Regions from separate parts of the Homo sapiens genome. Here region 2 is linked to region 1. Evidence: fine-mapped expression QTL. Tissue or cell type: cerebellum. Region 1 holds a variant in brackets; the other region holds the start of a gene. All regions are shown on one strand. Distances are between the middles of the regions.

Region 1 (8,081 bases):
AGTTCGAGACCAACCTGGACAACATGGCGAAACCTTGTCTCTATAAAAAAAAAAAAATACAAAAATTAGCCAGGTGTGGTGGTGGGCGCCTGTGGTCCCAGCTACCCGGGAGGCTGACGTGGGAGGATCGCTTGAGCTCAGGAGATGGAGGTTACAGTGAGCTGAGATTGTGCCACTGTACTCCAAGCTGGGTGACAGAGCGAGACCCTGTCTCAAAAAAGAAAAAAAAAATGCAAACAGATTATTAAGAGGAATGCCCTGTGCGCATCTTACCCCTGGTCACACTGAAGAGCTACTCCCTGTCTGTGACTCTGATTTAGCCTTTGCACAGACGTGCTGACGCCTGACCTAGGTGAGGACGTGTCCACAGCTGTTGAGAGCTGTTTGCATCTAACTGAAACTTTCTTCACTTTGAATACAGTAGATGAAATTCAGACCCCTAAAGCAAGAAAGATGGAGTTTTTCAACCCAGTGCTAAATGAAAATCAGAAGTTAGCAGTTAAAAGGATTCTGAGTGGTGACTGCCGTCCCCTCCCGTATATTCTCTTTGGACCTCCTGGTACTGGAAAGACAGTGACAATAATAGAGGCTGTTTTACAGGTAAGGACAGCGGCGCCGCGGGTGCTGTGGCTCTGTGCTGCTGTTCATGTGTCGTCTGTGTCTTCAGGAAGTGTGAGTTTAGATTGTAGAATCAGACAGTTGGAAAGAGCTTGAGAAATACCAGTTATTTCATAATGTTAAGTCTGTTTTTGTGGATATGTAGGGATTTAAAAGCTTATTTCATAGGTTTAGAAGGAAACTCATTTTTAGCCTGGTAAACTATTTTATCTGAATCATGACATTTTGCTGCAGAAAAGAAGTTACTCTTATAGTAGCTACAGCCACCATTCCACAGAAGTTTTAGATATCTTCATTTGTAATTGAAGTTAAGTTTATGAAACTATTGTCTACAGATGCTTCTTAACTTTTGATGGGGTTACAACCCAATAACCCATCGTAATGGGATTTGGGAAGCCTGTTTCAGGTTCATCAAGGCATGATCCCTTGTCAGGTGAGGAGCAGACTGACTGGGGATGGTCTTCACACCATCATAAAGTCAAAAAAGCGTTAAGTCAAACCATCATAAGCCGAAGACCATCTACATTTAGCGTCATTCAGGATTCAAATTAGCAAACAGGTATTGAGCGCACAATTGTACCACACGCCAGATGTGTGCAGATGAATCTGACTCTGTTTCTGCCCTGAAAGGTGGTTTAGAATCTTAGAGAGTGCGGAGAACCTTCCCACCTAACCCATGCTTTGGCAGCAGTGTGATGAGGCAGAGTCGTGGCCCAGGTCTCAGTGTGTTGGGGGCTGGCATCTGAGCCCATGCAGCTGAGTCCCTGCACCCGAATGTGTGTGTTGAGGTTAGACTCCTGGTTTCCACCTTGCGGTGTGGATGTTGAGCCTTGGTCTCTTGTGTGTCTTTGATGAAGGTACACTTTGCCTTGCCGGACAGTCGGATTTTAGTCTGTGCGCCCTCCAACAGTGCTGCTGACCTCGTGTGTCTGCGGCTGCACGAGAGCAAGGTGCTACAGCCGGCCACCATGGTCCGGGTGAACGCCACCTGCAGGTTCGAGGAGGTGAGCCCTTGGTGCAAGCAGTGGGGGGCACCAGAACCCCTCCCTGGAACATAGGAAATGCCAAGTGGACAGGGGAGGGCAGGGGTAGGAGGGTGGGCACAGAGGCGCCACAGAAAGCTGTGTTTGAGAAATGGCTCTGCCATGGGCCCTCCCTCACCGCTAAATGGTGGAGCTTGATTGCTGACTATTTCATCACATTCTCACTCTGTGTGAGTTATCACACCTATTGTGGGCATTCGTAGCATTGTAAAATTATCACATTCCTCTTTTATTTAATCCCCAAACGTCTTGTTACTTTTTAAGTAGTTTTGTTTTGTTGGTTTGGTGTTTTTTGTTTTGTTTTGTTTTTTTTTTTTGAGACGGAGTCTCGCTGTGTCGCCCAGGCTGAAGTGCAGTGGCATGATCTCGGCTCACTGCAAGCTCCGCCTCCCAGGTTCACACCATTCTCTGGCCTCAGCCTCCCAAGTAGCTGGGACTACAGGCACCCGCCACTGCGCCCGGCTAATTTTTTGTATTTTTAGTAGAGACGGAGTTTCACCGTGTTAGCCAGGATGGTCTCGATCTCCTGACCTCATGATCTGCCCGCCTCGGCCTCCCAAAGTGCTGGGATTACAGGCGTGAGCCACCGTGCCCGGCCTGGTTTGGTTTTAAGTATTCCTTTAAGTTGCTGGTTTGGTTATAGAGCGAAGTATTGCTTTTATTTTTTTGTTTGTTTGAGACAGAGTTTTTGCTCTTGTTGCCCAGGCTGGAGTGCAGTGGTGTGATCTTGGCTAACTGCAACCTCCGCCTCCCGGGTTCAAGCAATTCTCCTGCCTCAGCCTCCTAAGTACCTAGGATTACAGGTGTGTGCCACCACATCCAGCTAATTTTGTATTTTTAGTAGAGACAGGGTTTCACCATGTTGGTCAGGCTGGTCACGAACTCCTGATCTCAAGTGATCCACCCGCCTCTGCCTCCCAAAGTGTTGAGATTACAGGCTTTAGCCACTGTGCCCAGCCTGAAATATTGCGTTTAAAAAAGACATTGAAAATAGCTGGGCGTGGTGGCATGCGCCTGTAATCCCAGCTACTCCGGAGGCCGAAGCAGGAGAATCACTTGAACCTGGGAGGCAGAGGTTGCAGTGAGCCGAGATTGCACCATTGCACTCCAGCCTGGGCGACAGAGCAAGAGCAAGACTCCCTCTCTAAATAAACAAACAAACAAACTGAATAGAAAATGTACAAAGTTGTTTTGGGGAAGGGTCTGCAGGATTATGTGTTATATTTGTGGCTCTAGAGTTGATAAAACATGGACTGAATTGATAAGGAAGTATGAGATATTTTGAGAAAAAAACCTTAAATCATGACTTAGACGTAACTAAGAAGTGGTACCAGGGCAAGGTTCCCTTTTGGAATTCTGCTTAATAATTGGAGGAGTAAACTAACTCTACGCCTCCTTGCCCCCAGATAGTTATTGACGCCGTCAAACCGTATTGCAGAGACGGAGAAGACATCTGGAAAGCCTCACGCTTCCGGATAATCATCACCACATGCAGCAGCTCAGGGCTGTTTTACCAAATAGGAGTGAGGTGAGCCCCGGGCATGGAGCGCGGCATGGGGCCTCCCAGGGCAGAGGTCGGAGTCCTCTCCTAGCTTCTGTCTGAGGGGCGGATGACCCAGAGACTCAGTGCTCAGGGAGGGAGGCAGGGCTGTGGGCGAGAAAGGCTGGTTGGGGAGGGCCGTGCCTGAATGGAGCTGGGGAAGCCGAGACCCCAAGGACTCGAAGGAGCCAGCAGTGGGATGGGCAGGCAGATGGACTGGCCCATGCAGAGGCCCCGCGGTGGGGGAGCACTGAGGTCTCCCCAAAGGAGACTGTAGAGCCAGAGCCTCGTGAGCAGGAACGGCCTGAAAGGGGTGGTGAGGGGGAGGCCTGGCGGGCTGTGGAGGGGCCTTTGGACGACCTCTGGTGAGCCGGGAAGCCAGTGAAGGGCTTCTGAGCAGGAGAGTGAGTCTCTTGGAGTGGGCGTGGGGAGGCAGGCTGCCTAGGAAACGGCTGGGCTCTGTAAGGTCAGACCCTGGGGGCCATTTGTGTCCCTGGCGCTGGGGGCTCTTCAGGGGAGACAGGCGGAGGAGATGGATTGTGGGGTGCCGGCTGTCATAGGAGGACCTCCCCTGGGGGCTGGGAGGAAGAGCTTCGAGCCCAGGGAGGCTGAGTGAGGACCAAGGCACTCTCAGACCCCAGTGCAGGGGGGTGGGGTCGGGGAGGCAGCAGGCAGCTCCCTCTCAGTGCATAGAGCCAGACAGTGTCGGGGGCACAGGCTGAGGGTGAGAGAGGGAGAAGCCAGGGCCTCTGAGGGAAGCCCCACCCTCCCTGACGGCCTGGAGACAGGTCGCTCTGAACAGTGTCCAGCGTCACAGTGGTCGTGACCCTCCCTGACAGCCTGGAGACAGGTCACCCTGGACAGTGTCCAGCGTCACGGTGGTCGTGAGGGTGACCACAGGAGGTGGTCCGTCAGCTCCACATGGAGCAAAGGCACAGCCAGCCACGCCTATCACAGCGTGTCACGGATGGTTTCATCGGCGCGTTTAACTCTCTCACATACATGATGTCCTTTCATCATGAGATTAGTAGAACGTGATTGATGAGACACTTTACATTTTTTTTGGTTCAAGTCTTCAAAATCCACCATGTATTTTACACTTAGAGCATGTCAGGTTTCAGACTAGCCACTGTGCGGTGCCCGAGAGCCGTGTGTGGCTACCGGATTGGACAGCACGGATCTGAACAAGACAGGGATTTTTTTTGTTAATGTGTGTTGATGAGTCAAAGGTCAAGAGCCGAAGAGCCAGTCCTCACTGGGGTGCAGAGGGCTCTTTGGGGGCAGAGCGGGCACTGCATGGACCCTGCACCCTGGAGCTGATGTTCAGGTAGTGGGAGGAGGTGGCCGGCCAGGGCAGGCCGCTCTCTCAGAGGCACTCTGTGCAGAAGCAGGGAGGGTGCTGCAGGCCGCT[C/G]TCTCAGAGGCGCTCTGTGCAGAAGCAGGGAGGGTGCTGCAGGCCGCTCTCTCAGAGGCGCTCTGTGCAGAAGCAGGGAGGGTGCTGCAGGCCGCTCTCTCAGAGGCGCTCTGTGCAGAAGCAGGGAGGGTGCTGCAGGCCGCTCTCTCAGAGGCGCTCTGTGCAGAAGCAGGGAGGGTGCTGCAGGCCGCTCTCTCAGAGGCGCTCTGTGCAGAAGCAGGGAGGGTGCTGCAGGCCGCTCTCTCAGAGGCGCTCTGTGCAGAAGCAGGGAGGGTGCTGCAGGCCGCTCTCTCAGAGGCGCTCTGTGCAGAAGCAGGGAGGGTGCTGCAGGCCGCTCTCTCAGAGGCGCTCTGTGCAGAAGCAGGGAGGGTGCTGCAGCCCAGCTGCAGAGGCCCCACAGCGTTAGTTGGCCACTGGGGGCGGCTGGAGTGGGGAGGGGCACTTCAAAGGGCAAAGAAGTAGCAATGTCATCTGGCAAAAGTGACATTAAATAACTGCAATTAATACAGAATTGAAACCTAAATACTTACATTCTAGGAAAGATACATAATGTTAATTTTTTTCAACAGAAATAGGGACATGAGATGGGGAAATGGCAGTTTGCTGATTTCCACATCTTTCACTGGGAGGGGTTCACGGTGTCACTTGTGAAATCCGTGTCTTGAGAGTTACACATTGATACCTGAAGTGAAAGGTGTCAGCTGACCGTGAGTGGATGCAGGACATGTTGGGCCCAGCACTGCTGTAAGCAGGAGCCCGCCCCCGCACAGGTCTGACCACAGGGTCTCACCCCACAGTGGGACACCTGAGGCTCAGAGGTGATGGATTTGCCCAGCATCTAGGGTTGGAGAGGGGAGATCCTGGAATCAGCAGTGAGAAGGGTAAACGTGGGCTCGGCAGTGAGGACGGTGCGGGCCCAAGGTGCGTCCTGTTGAGTGTTGGCGTGGCTCCGGACACTCTCTCTGCCCCATACCTGCTTCCTCAGGCATCAGGACATGTTTCTGCCCCAAGAGCATTTCCCCACTGAGGCCTCCTGACCACAGAGCAGAAGCTGCTGGGGTGGGCGAGCCAGGGAAGCCGGGGCACCTGTTCCTCAGCTCATGGCCCCAGGTGGGGTGGCCCCTCTGCACTCTAGAAACAGATCATGTGCCGAGCGAGCTCCTGCTCTCCGCTCAGTCCCACAGCCTTCCCATGCAAGAGTTCCGCAGCTTCTCCTGACGACTCCTTCCCGCAAAATCCCCACCCCGTCCATCAGCAACGCTGTGGACTCTCTGCTCCTGCACCTCCCTTACCTCCCTTGTCACACGGAGAAGGAAGAGCCGGACAGGTACCCGCCAGGAGGGCTGCTCTGTAGCTGGGAACCTCACTGAGTTTGCAGCAGGGGCCAGAATTGTGGGGAGCCATTCTAGAGACCGCATTTTCTTTTTTTCTTTTTTTTTTTTTTTTATGAGATGGAGTCTTGCTCTGTCACCCAAGCTGGAGTGCAGTGGCGCGATCTCAGCTCACTGCAAGCTCCGCCTCCCAGGTTCACGCCATTCTCCTGCCTCAGCTTCCCGAGTAGCTGGGACTACAGGCGCCCGCCACCACACCCGGCTAATTTTTTTGTATTTTGAGTAGAGACGGGGTTTCACCGTGTTAGCCAGGATGGTCTTGATCTCCTGACCTCGTGATCCACCCATCTCGGCCTCCCAAAGTGCTGGCATTACAGGCGTGAGCCACTGCGCCCGACCAACCCCATTTTCTTAATGGTGCCGCAGATTGGGAAGTGGCTCCCAGGGCCTCAGCCTATTGGCATGCAGGCCAGGCAGTGCCCAGCTGAGAGTGGCTCACAAGGATGAGTCAGGAGGAAATGAGCGGATGGCAGGAGAGGCTGCCATCTGTGGCCGCCTGCATGGCCAGGCCTGTTCTCAGCGCTTTACAGCGGCCAGTTCAGCTGCTCTCACCTCAGCCACCTCCCGAGAGACACGTGGGAGGTGGAGGCTCAGAGAGGGGAAGTCAGGACTAGAGCCTGGGCATTTTGATAATGACAGGAGTGAGACGCAGGTGGAGAGCAGGCCAGGAGCCTGCGGCGCTTCTCCTGTGAGCTGCCCCCAGGAGGCGCTCGTGTGTTGCCCATCGCTCCCACCCCTTCTTCCCTCCACATCTCTAGAAATACAGACGCTGCGTGCAAAGCACTGGGTGCTGATGTGGCTTAGCATCTCCTGACACCTGTGGCCTGTCCTCCCTCCAGCCGGGTGACACCCAGACCCCCAGCTCCTGCACACCCCTGGGCAACCCTGCTGTGCCCCCGGGGTGCTGAGCGTGGCTTTGCCAGTGTGTCAGAGGCATCAATTGCTAAAACAATTCGGCAGAAATTACCATTTAGAACATCTTTGCTCTAGAGTTGGGCACTTCACTCACGTGTTTGTGGACGAGGCTGGGCAGGCAAGTGAGCCGGAATGCCTCATTCCTCTGGGGCTGATGTCGGACATCAGTGGCCAGGTAAGTCCCGACTACTGTGTGTGCTGCTTCCTCCTCACCCCGTTCTCCTGAGGGGATGCAGGCTGCGATCCTGCCGGGAACAGTCACAGCTGTACAGGGGTCAGGTGGAAGTGCCAAGGACCCCGAGGTGTTGGGGGCCATGGGTCTCTATTGTACTTTATTCCTTTTGGACTAGAAGTGAATGTCTTGACTCATTTACTTGTAAAACGGAGGTAAGAGCCATTCTAGGTGTTGGGGATACAGCGGTAAAGTCAGGAATGTGGTCCCTGCTCTGGGTGAGCCGGCCGTTCAGTGCCTGGAGGGGCGGACAGGGCCAGTGCTCCTGCATCTGACCCACTTGCCCCTCAGGCTGCCCTGGCCTCCAGCTCTGTGCATCCTCTGTTCTCTGCTCCCACCTGCTTCCTCCCCGAGTGCTTCTGATGGTGGCGTGGGCATCACCTTGAACTTCCCTGGTTCTCTCACTGTGGCTCATCCAGGCGAGCTCATCCAGTGTCCAGCACTGGACATTTCAGGGTCCTCCTTGGCACCCATCCTAGATGTCTGTCCCAGTCACCAGGCACTGTGGGGCGGAGCATGAAGGTGACGCCTAGGGAGGGAGCAGGGACTGGTCCAGGCAGAGCAGCGGCATAGGGCGGCCTGACCAGGTCAAGGCAACCATGGGCAAGAGGCAAGGGGCAGGTGGGATGGCGGCCAGGGCCAGCCATGCAGAAGCTTCCAGAAGATAGACGGCATCCTTGGGGCTCTTACCACTTTGAGAGATTCGCAGGAGAGAAAACCAGGCTGCAGAAGCCGGGCAGATGGCAGGACTTCGGGGAGGCAGATGGCAGGACTTCAGGGGGAAGCGGGGAGAGACGGCTCCAAGCCCTGTCGGCATTCCCTGGTCTCCCAGTCCCTCCCGTCGTCCCCTGCAGCAAGAGTGAGCATGGGGCCATCCTGCGCACAGCCCCATTCCCACCTGAGCCCGTAGGAGTGGCAGCGGCACCCTCCC
Region 2 (8,081 bases), 56 kb before region 1:
TCATCATTCAACATTCAACAAACATTTATGGGGTGGACAAAGAAGTGACGTCCTTCCTATAGGCTGTTTACATTCATTGGGGGCACAGGAGTGCACAGGATAAACAAATTAGTGTGTTATACAGTGATATGGTTTGGCTGTGTCCCCACTCAAATCTCATCTTGAATTGTAATTCCCATAATTCCTACATGTCGTGGAAGGGGCCCGGTGGGAGGTAATTGAATCATGGGGGTGGTTACCCCCATGCTGCTGTTCTCCTGACAATGAGTGAGGTCTTATGAGATCTGATGGTCTTTTATAAGGGGCTTTCCCCGCTTTTGCTCAAGACTTCTCCTTCCTGCCACCTTGTGAAGAAGGACATGTTTGCTTCCCCTTCCACCATGATTGTAAGTTTCCTGAGGCCTCCTCAGCCCTGTGGAACTGTGAGTCAATTAAAGCTCTTTCCTTTATAAGGACTTGACTCTAAAATTACCCAGTCTTGGGTATGTCCTTATAGCAGCGTGAGAACAGACTAATGCATCCAGTGACACACATGATTTCCTCTATGAGGGAAAAGAAGTCAGGGGAGAGAAATGAGGGGCTGCTGTTTGCAGGGGCCAGGGCAGGCCTCAGTGAGAAGGAGGCAGGGAGGGGAGGCTGGCAGAGTTGAAGCAAAGGCCACAGGTTGGGGAAGGCAGGCGAGGACCATGCAAGGGGGATACAGGTAGGACAGCCAGGTGCCAGCACCTGTGGGTATGGAGACGACTCTGCTTCAACTCTGAGACAGACCTGCTGGAGGGGTCTGGGCAGAGCAGCATCCGGTCACTCACTGGGTGGAGAGCAGGCTGGGGGGTGGGAGGAGCAGGTGCTGCCTGGCATTGAGGTGGCAGTGGGCAAGTGGTGAGGAGGGACTGGGCTCTGAACAGGGTTTGAAGAGCGGACGCAATCTGCTGTCAGGGCGACGTTGCTGAGTTCTGTCTGAGCAGTGAGGACAGAGATGAGAAGACCAGGGTGGAGCAGGTGTGGAGCGAGGATCTGGAGTTCCATTCTGGACATGATGAGGCCGAGATGTCTGTGGGCATCTGCCGGGTCTACTGAGTCCAGAATCCCAGGGAGTGGCCCGAGCTGGGGAGCTGAGGGGCAGCCCTGCAGGCACAGCACCCGCTGCGAGCTGCCCTGGCAGGGAGCCCATGAGCCACCAGCCCTCATGCAGCTCGCTCTTGTTTCCAAGCTAATCTCCCACCAACCAGTAGGTCCCTGGGACCCTGCTGGCTCCTGTATGTGTTCCAGCACCCAGCCCAAGACACAGGCTTAGCGGGGATTTGAAATGCTAGGGAGTGCGCCACTCTCTCCCTTCCCACAGCAAGAACTATCAGTACACTCTGCATCCATGGACAGGCAAGGTCCAGGCTGTCATCAGACTGACAGATCTGACCTAGGAAAATAAAGCTATGTCAATCAAAAATAAGTCGGGGCTGGGCGCAGTGGCTCACACCTGTAATCCCAGCACTCGGGAGGCCAAGGCGGGTGGATCACCTGCGGGTCAGAAGTTCGAGACCAGCCTGACCAACATGGTAAAACCTTGTCGCTACTAAAAATACAAAAAAAAAAAAAAAAAAAAAAAAAAAAAAAAGCCAGCGTGGTGGCGCACGCCTGTAATCCCAGCTGCTCTGGAGGCTGAGGCAGGAGAATCACTTGAACCCGGGAGGTGGAGGCTACAGTGAGCTAAGATCATGCCACTGCATTCCAGCCTGGGCGACGGAGCAGGACTCCATCTCAAAAAAAAAAAAAAAGAAATAATAAAAAACAGAAACCACTGGAATAGTAAAGATATATATACGTATTTTGTTTTTGTTTTTGTTTTGAGGCAGAGTCTTGCTCTGTCTCCCAGGCTGGAGTGTAGTGGTGTGATCTCAGCTCACTGCAACCTCCACCTCCTGGGTTCAAGTGATTCTTCTGCTTCAGCCTCCCAAGTAGTTGGGATTACAGGCATGCGCCACCATGCCTGGCTAATTTTTTTTGTATTTTTTTGTAGAGACAGGATTTTGGCAGGTTGACCAGGCTGGTCTCGAACTCCTGACCTCAAGTGATCTGCTCACCTTGGCCTCGCAAAGTGTAAAGATATTTTTAAAATAGAGAAAAATCAATGAAATCAAGGGATGATTTTTTTTAAAAACTCAATAAAATTGATAAATATAGACTGATCAAGGAAAATGAGAGGGATGAGATAAATTACCTATGTCAAGAATGAAAGATGGCTCATCATTATGGACCATACAGACGTTAAAAGGATAATAAGGAAATATGCTGAACAACTTTATGCCAATAATCTGACATCTAATAATTGGATGAAATGGACAAATTCCTTAAAAGAATTACCAAAGTTTATTCAATATTACCTTGATAACTTGAATAGCCCTCTAGCTGATGCAGAAGTGAATTTCTCATTAAAAACCTTCCCACAAAGAAATCTCGAAGCCCAAATGGGTTCCCCAGCGAATACTACCACAATTTTTAGGGAATAAGTTACCCCATCCTACTCCCAGGTCACTGCAGGCCCGGCTTAAACCGACCCCAAACCAGACAGACACAGAAAACGGGAGGTCGGCCACAGAGCAATCTGCTTCACCAGCACCGTCCCCAACCTTGGACAAAGCGTTACCAAGCTGAGTCAGGCAATACACCAAAAGGATAACGAATCGTGACCAAGTGAGTTTTCCAAGGAGAGCCAAACAATGTAATTCCCTATGGGCTGAAATAAAAAGCTACAGGATCATTTGAATACATGCAGAAAAGCGTTGCAGAAAATTTCACACCCACTCATAAGAACTCTTGGAAAAACAGGAATAGAGGGAACTTCCTCAACTTGATAAAAAACACCAACAAAAAACGACTCCTAACATCACTCTGGGTGGTGAAAGCGCACTTTTCCCTAATGTGTGGGCGGCAAGAAGGCGGACCCGCTCGAAGCTCCGCCCACCCACGCGAGGCCCCGCCCGCCCGCTCGAAGCCCCGCCCACCCGGCGGTCACACCGCCTTGCGCGCTCGGCATGACGTCACTCCCACCAGGCACCTCGCCTTGTCAGGAGCTGCCAGGCGCCAACCGCCGACCTCTGACCGCTACGGGTCCCGGCTCGCGCAACGACCCCAAGGCGCATGCCCAGGCGCGGCGACCCCATTGGTGGCGGGCGGCGGGAGCGGCGCGGGCGCGTGCGGGCGGCGGCAGCGGCGGTGACGGCAGCCTAGGCCGGGCGAGGGCCATGCTGAGCCTCGCAGCCAAGCTGGTGGCCTTCTTCTGGAGGACGGCGGACACCCCTAGGGAGGAAGCCGGGCAGCTGGAGCCCGAGCTCGCGGAAGGTGGCTCGCGGGAGGCGGCTGGGAGGCGGGTCCCGGGCCCTCGCGTGTCGGCCACGAGGGAGCCGCGCCCATAGGTCTTTGAGTGCAGTGCGGGCCGGCAGGCAACGCTGGGCCCGGCCTTTCCTCATCTCCGCTGGCGGGGATCCCCGTTCGCCTCAGGAGGCTTCCGACCCCACAGCATCCCGCCGCTCTGGGCGCCCGTCCTCTGTGAGGTCTCTCCGGTGACACCAGCCCCTCTTCCCGCCCTCACTTTGTGTGTTTACGCCGAGCAGCTGCCAAGTCGTCTCTCCATGTCGTTCCTCCCTGTCCGCAGCGTCATTGGCGGTGGTGTGTCTAGAAAGCCCCGAAAAACGCGGCCCCGCAGACTTGGCCTGTCCTTTCAGAACGCGCTGCGCCAAGGCGTGCCATTTCCTTGTCTGGTTTTCAAGCCCATCTTTCTAAAGCCCGGGATGCGCCCGGATGCCCTCACCGTTCCTTTCTCCTGAGGTGTTTGTGTGTGTGTGTGTGTGAGACGGAGTTTCGCTCTTGTTGCCCAGGCTGGAGTGCAGTGGCGCAATCTCGGCTCACCGCAACCTCCGCCTTCTGGGTTCAAGTGATTCTCCTGCCTCAGCCTCCCGAGCAGCGGGGATTATAGGCACCCGCCACCACGCCCGGCTAATTTTTGTATTTTTAGTCGAGGGGGGGTTCGCCATGTTGGTCAGGCTGGTCTCGAACTCCTGATCTCAGGTGACCCACCCACCTTGGCCTCCCAAAGTGCTGGGATTACAGGCTTGAGCCACCACGCCCGACCTCTCCCGAGGTTCTGATGGCTTCTCCCGATGTTTCCTTATGTGGGAATGGAATCCACAGTAGTGGGTCCCTAATTGCCTTCTGTGAGAAAAGACAGGAACAGGCTTCAGGAGGGGAGCTTCCTGCTGCAGGCAGCGTGTTCAGGGCCTCTGGATCCACGAGGGCCGATGCCCGGGGGGCCGGCTGTGTTACCTGGAGCACTTGCTCCGTGGATCTCTTCGGTAGAACACGCGCTCAGCGGTAGCTGGAGCTCCAGCTCTTGGCAGCGCTCAGATCCTATGCCTGTACTGTAACCGTCGCCCCAGGTTCCTCCCGTGGCTGGGAAGCTGCAGTAAAGGCACGTTCAGGACTCAGGACCGTGGCTGCAGCAGTGGCCAGACGGCTGAGGGCGTGCGCTGCTCCTGGGCCAGACTTGTCTGCCCAGCCCCGAACCTTTTCCAGCACCGTGTTTGTTGAGATTCTCCAGTCTTCCGAGGCTGCTGCTGATGGTAATAAAAAGATAATCGATAGTACTAATAAAACCGTGCATGCTAATGACTCCCAGATGCTGATATAAGTGGCCATTTACATAGCACTTAACGCGTGTCAGCCACGCAGAGGTCCATACATGCACGTGTGTTCTGCCACTTAACCCTTCAGCAGCTCTCTTGGGTAGTGACGATTAGTCTCCATCTTACAGATGGCAACAGGCCCAGAGTAGTTAAGGACCTAGTCCAGGGTTACACCAATGGCAGTAGAAGAGCTAGGAGTCAACCCCATGCAGTCTGTTGTGGAGTCAGGGCTGTCACCTCCACAACCACTACCTGTGCCCTTCTGAGGAAACTGGGCTGTCTGCCTCCAAACCCCACGTTCCAGACACAGCACTCTCTGATGGGATTCTCTCTGTCTCAAGTCAGCCCGTTCGGAGTCAGTGCCTCCGAACTGCAAAAAAAGGAGGCTTTTGCACTCTGCCTTTCTCTGGTGGGGTTCACTGTAGCGTACGCTTGCTTTTATGGCCAAGATAACTTCTTTGTTTACCTACCTCAGGTGACACTAAGCTGAAAACTGTACGGGGTGTCGTGACAAGGTACTGCAGCGATTATGGCATGATTGATGATATGATCTACTTCTCCAGTGATGCTGTGACTAGCAGAGTGCTTCTGAATGTTGGACAGGAAGTGATTGCAGTTGTGGAAGAAAATAAAGTGTCCAATGGACTGAAAGCAATCAGGGTAAGGTTTGAGTTCATTTGGGAACAGTTTTTCTTCGCCACGGGACTTTGTGTTGTTTTTCCTTGTGTTTAATCTATCAGACATGACCCGGCCAAGGGAGAAAGAGTGGAATGTACCTTCAAGGGGATGCTTTTGCTCTTTATGATTTATGTTTTAAAAAATAGACTGGGTACAGTGGCTCACGCCTGTAATCCCAGCACTTTGGAAGGCTGAGACAGGCAGATCACTTGAGCTCAGGTGTTAAGAGACCAGCCTGGGCAGCATGGTGAAACCTCGTGTCTACAAAAAAAAAACCCACAAAAGTTAGCCTGGTGTCGTGGCACATACCTGTAGTCCCAGCTACATGGGAGGCTGAGGCGGGAGGATCGCTTGAGCCCAGAGGGTCAAGGCTGCAATGAGTTATGATTGCACTACCACACTCCAGCCTGGATGACAGAGCAAGACCCTGTCTCAATAAATAAACAAACAGCAGTCTTTGTAAATCATTCAAACAACATAGACATGTATACTTTAGAAAGTAAAGTTTGCCTATGAATTTATGCTGTGGAGAACATAGCAATTATATATCCATTATTTTCTTGCTTTTTCAACAATTTAATGGTTATCACCAAAGTAACATCAATAATATACAAATTTATACTCTTAGGAGCAGAATGAGAGACTGCACTTAATTTGCACTTAAGCCTTAAGTATGGTAACTTTTCTTTTTCTTTTTGTTTTTGTTTTTGTTTTTTTCTGAGACGGAGTCTCTGTCGCCCAGGCTGGAGTGCAGTGACGCAATCTCAGCTCACTGCAAGCTCCGCCTCCTGGGTTCACGCCATTCTCCTGCCTCAGCCTCCTGAGTAGCTGGGACTACAGGCACCCACCACCACACCCAGTTAATTTTTTTGTATTTTTAGTAGAGACGGGGTTTCACCGTGTTAGCCAGGATGGTCTGGAGCTCCTGACCTCGTGATCTGCCCACCTCAGCCTCCCAAAGTGCTAGGATTACAGGTGTGAGCCACCGCGCCCGGCCTCATGTTTTTTCTATGAATTATTTTTGGGTCCTTTGTCCACATTTTTGTTGAGTTCAGCTTTTTCTTTTGTTAAAGCTTATATATTAGGGAAATCAGAGCTTTTTAAGGAAAATTATTATATGAAAGTGTTAGGAATATTTTCCCCAGGATCATCTTTGACTGTGTTTTATAGTTTCATTTTTTGTAGTTAAGTGTGCCTCTTTTCCATGTAGCTTTTGGATGCTGTAAGAAGCCTTAGGGAGGCTTATTCCACTTCTTATTCCTAATATTCAAATTTTACTCTGAAAATTGTTTATTGACAATTAGAATTTTTTTTTCAATTTTTGAGACAGAGCTTTGCGCTGTCGCCCAGGCTGGAGTATAGTAGTGCGATTATAGTTCACTGCAGCCTGGAACTCCTGAGCTCAAGCGATTCTTCCACCTCAGCCTCCTGAGTAACTGGGACCACAGGTGTACACCATCATACCTGACTAATTTTTAAAATTTTTTTGTAGAAATGGCGTCTCACTGTGTTGCGTAGGCTGATCTGAAACTCCTGGCCTCGAGTGGTCCTTCCACCTCGGCCTCCCAAAGTGTTGGGATTACAGGCATGAGCCACCATGCCTGGCCTGTTTGTTGATATTTAAATATTTGACCTGCCTGGAATTTATTTGGGTGCACAGACTGAGAGAAGGAACCAGACATTGCTTTCCTAATGGCTAGCCAGTCATCTGAGTAGCTCACTTTTTCCCTGCTGATTTGGAAAATTCCTTAATCATGTATCAGAATCCCACCTGCATGTGATGTGGTCCTGATGCTTGTAAGGGGGCCCCATGGCATGGTTGCTGTGATAGGTGGTGAGCAGGTTTCCCTTCTTTGCTCTTATTAGCATATGGTATTTTTCTGGCTCTTCACATGTTCTGGATGAGTTTGGAATCTTGTTTCTCCCCCTCTGCCCAGATTTGCTTTGGATGGCACTGAGTTTATGCATTTCATTTAGAATAATTGATATTTGGGTCATATGGAGTCTTTTCCATATGTCTGTCCATTTATTTAAGCCTTCCTTTGTATTCTTTTTATAGTTCAATAGTTTTCTTCTTTTAGGTCCTGTAAATTTCTTACTAAATTTATTTTCAGGAGTTTTTATGTGTTCTATTAACATCATTTTCCATCGTATTTTCAAATTAATCTTTTTCTTCCTGTATGGGAAAGCTTTCAATTTTTTTTTTTTTTTTTTGAGACGGAGTCTCGCTCTGTCACCCAGGCTGGAGTGCAGTGGCATGATCTTGGCTCACTGCAAGCTCCATCTTCTGGGTTCACACCATTCTCCTGCCTCAGCCTCCAGAGTAGCTGGGACTACAGGCGCCTGCCACCACGCCCAGCTAATTTTTTGTATTTTTAGTAGAGATGGGGTTTCACTGTGTTAGCCAGGATGGTCTCGATCTCCTGACCTCGTGATCCGCCACCTCGGCCTCCCAAAGTGCCGGGATTACAGGCATGAGCCACCATGCCCAGCGATTTTTAAATGTAATTTGGAATCTGGCAAACGTATTGAGCTATTAACTACTTTTTAAAAATACTTGAGATGTACTTTATTATACTATTATAGTTAGTACCATCTAATGCTTAGTATCATCTTTCTCAAATTAAAAAAAAAGCATACCCAATAAAATAATTCAAAGTCTAGAATTCCATCATTCAATATGGTAGCCACCACTCATGTGCAGCAGTTTCGATTTATTAAAACTAA

Alleles and levels. Positions count from the first base shown, and alleles are read on the strand shown. Sizes are in standard deviations (SD) of each study's normalised expression.
As copies of C replace G in region 1, the expression in cerebellum of the gene that starts at base 3,157 in region 2 goes down (moderate effect, 0.75 SD a copy in GTEx).

Evidence for each region. PIP is the estimated chance that this variant, and not a neighbour inherited with it, causes the effect.
Region 2: it holds the start of MOV10L1, and the variant in region 1 is fine-mapped to the expression of MOV10L1 in cerebellum (GTEx, PIP 0.99).

The regions. Positions count from the first base shown.
Region 1 is chr22:50,142,622-50,150,702 of GRCh38, forward strand. It overlaps MOV10L1 (Mov10 like RNA helicase 1), which reads left to right. Exons shown (of 27, transcript NM_018995.3): 17 at 422-600; 18 at 1,476-1,622; 19 at 3,068-3,189; 20 at 6,994-7,093. Among named protein-coding and RNA genes, the nearest start is that of PANX2, 24 kb to the right of the region's middle. The variant C/G (reference allele first, on the strand shown) is at 4,613.
Region 2 is chr22:50,086,850-50,094,930 of GRCh38, forward strand. It overlaps MOV10L1 (Mov10 like RNA helicase 1), which reads left to right and starts at 3,157. Exons shown (of 27, transcript NM_018995.3): 1 at 3,157-3,336; 2 at 5,152-5,336. The coding sequence starts at 3,240.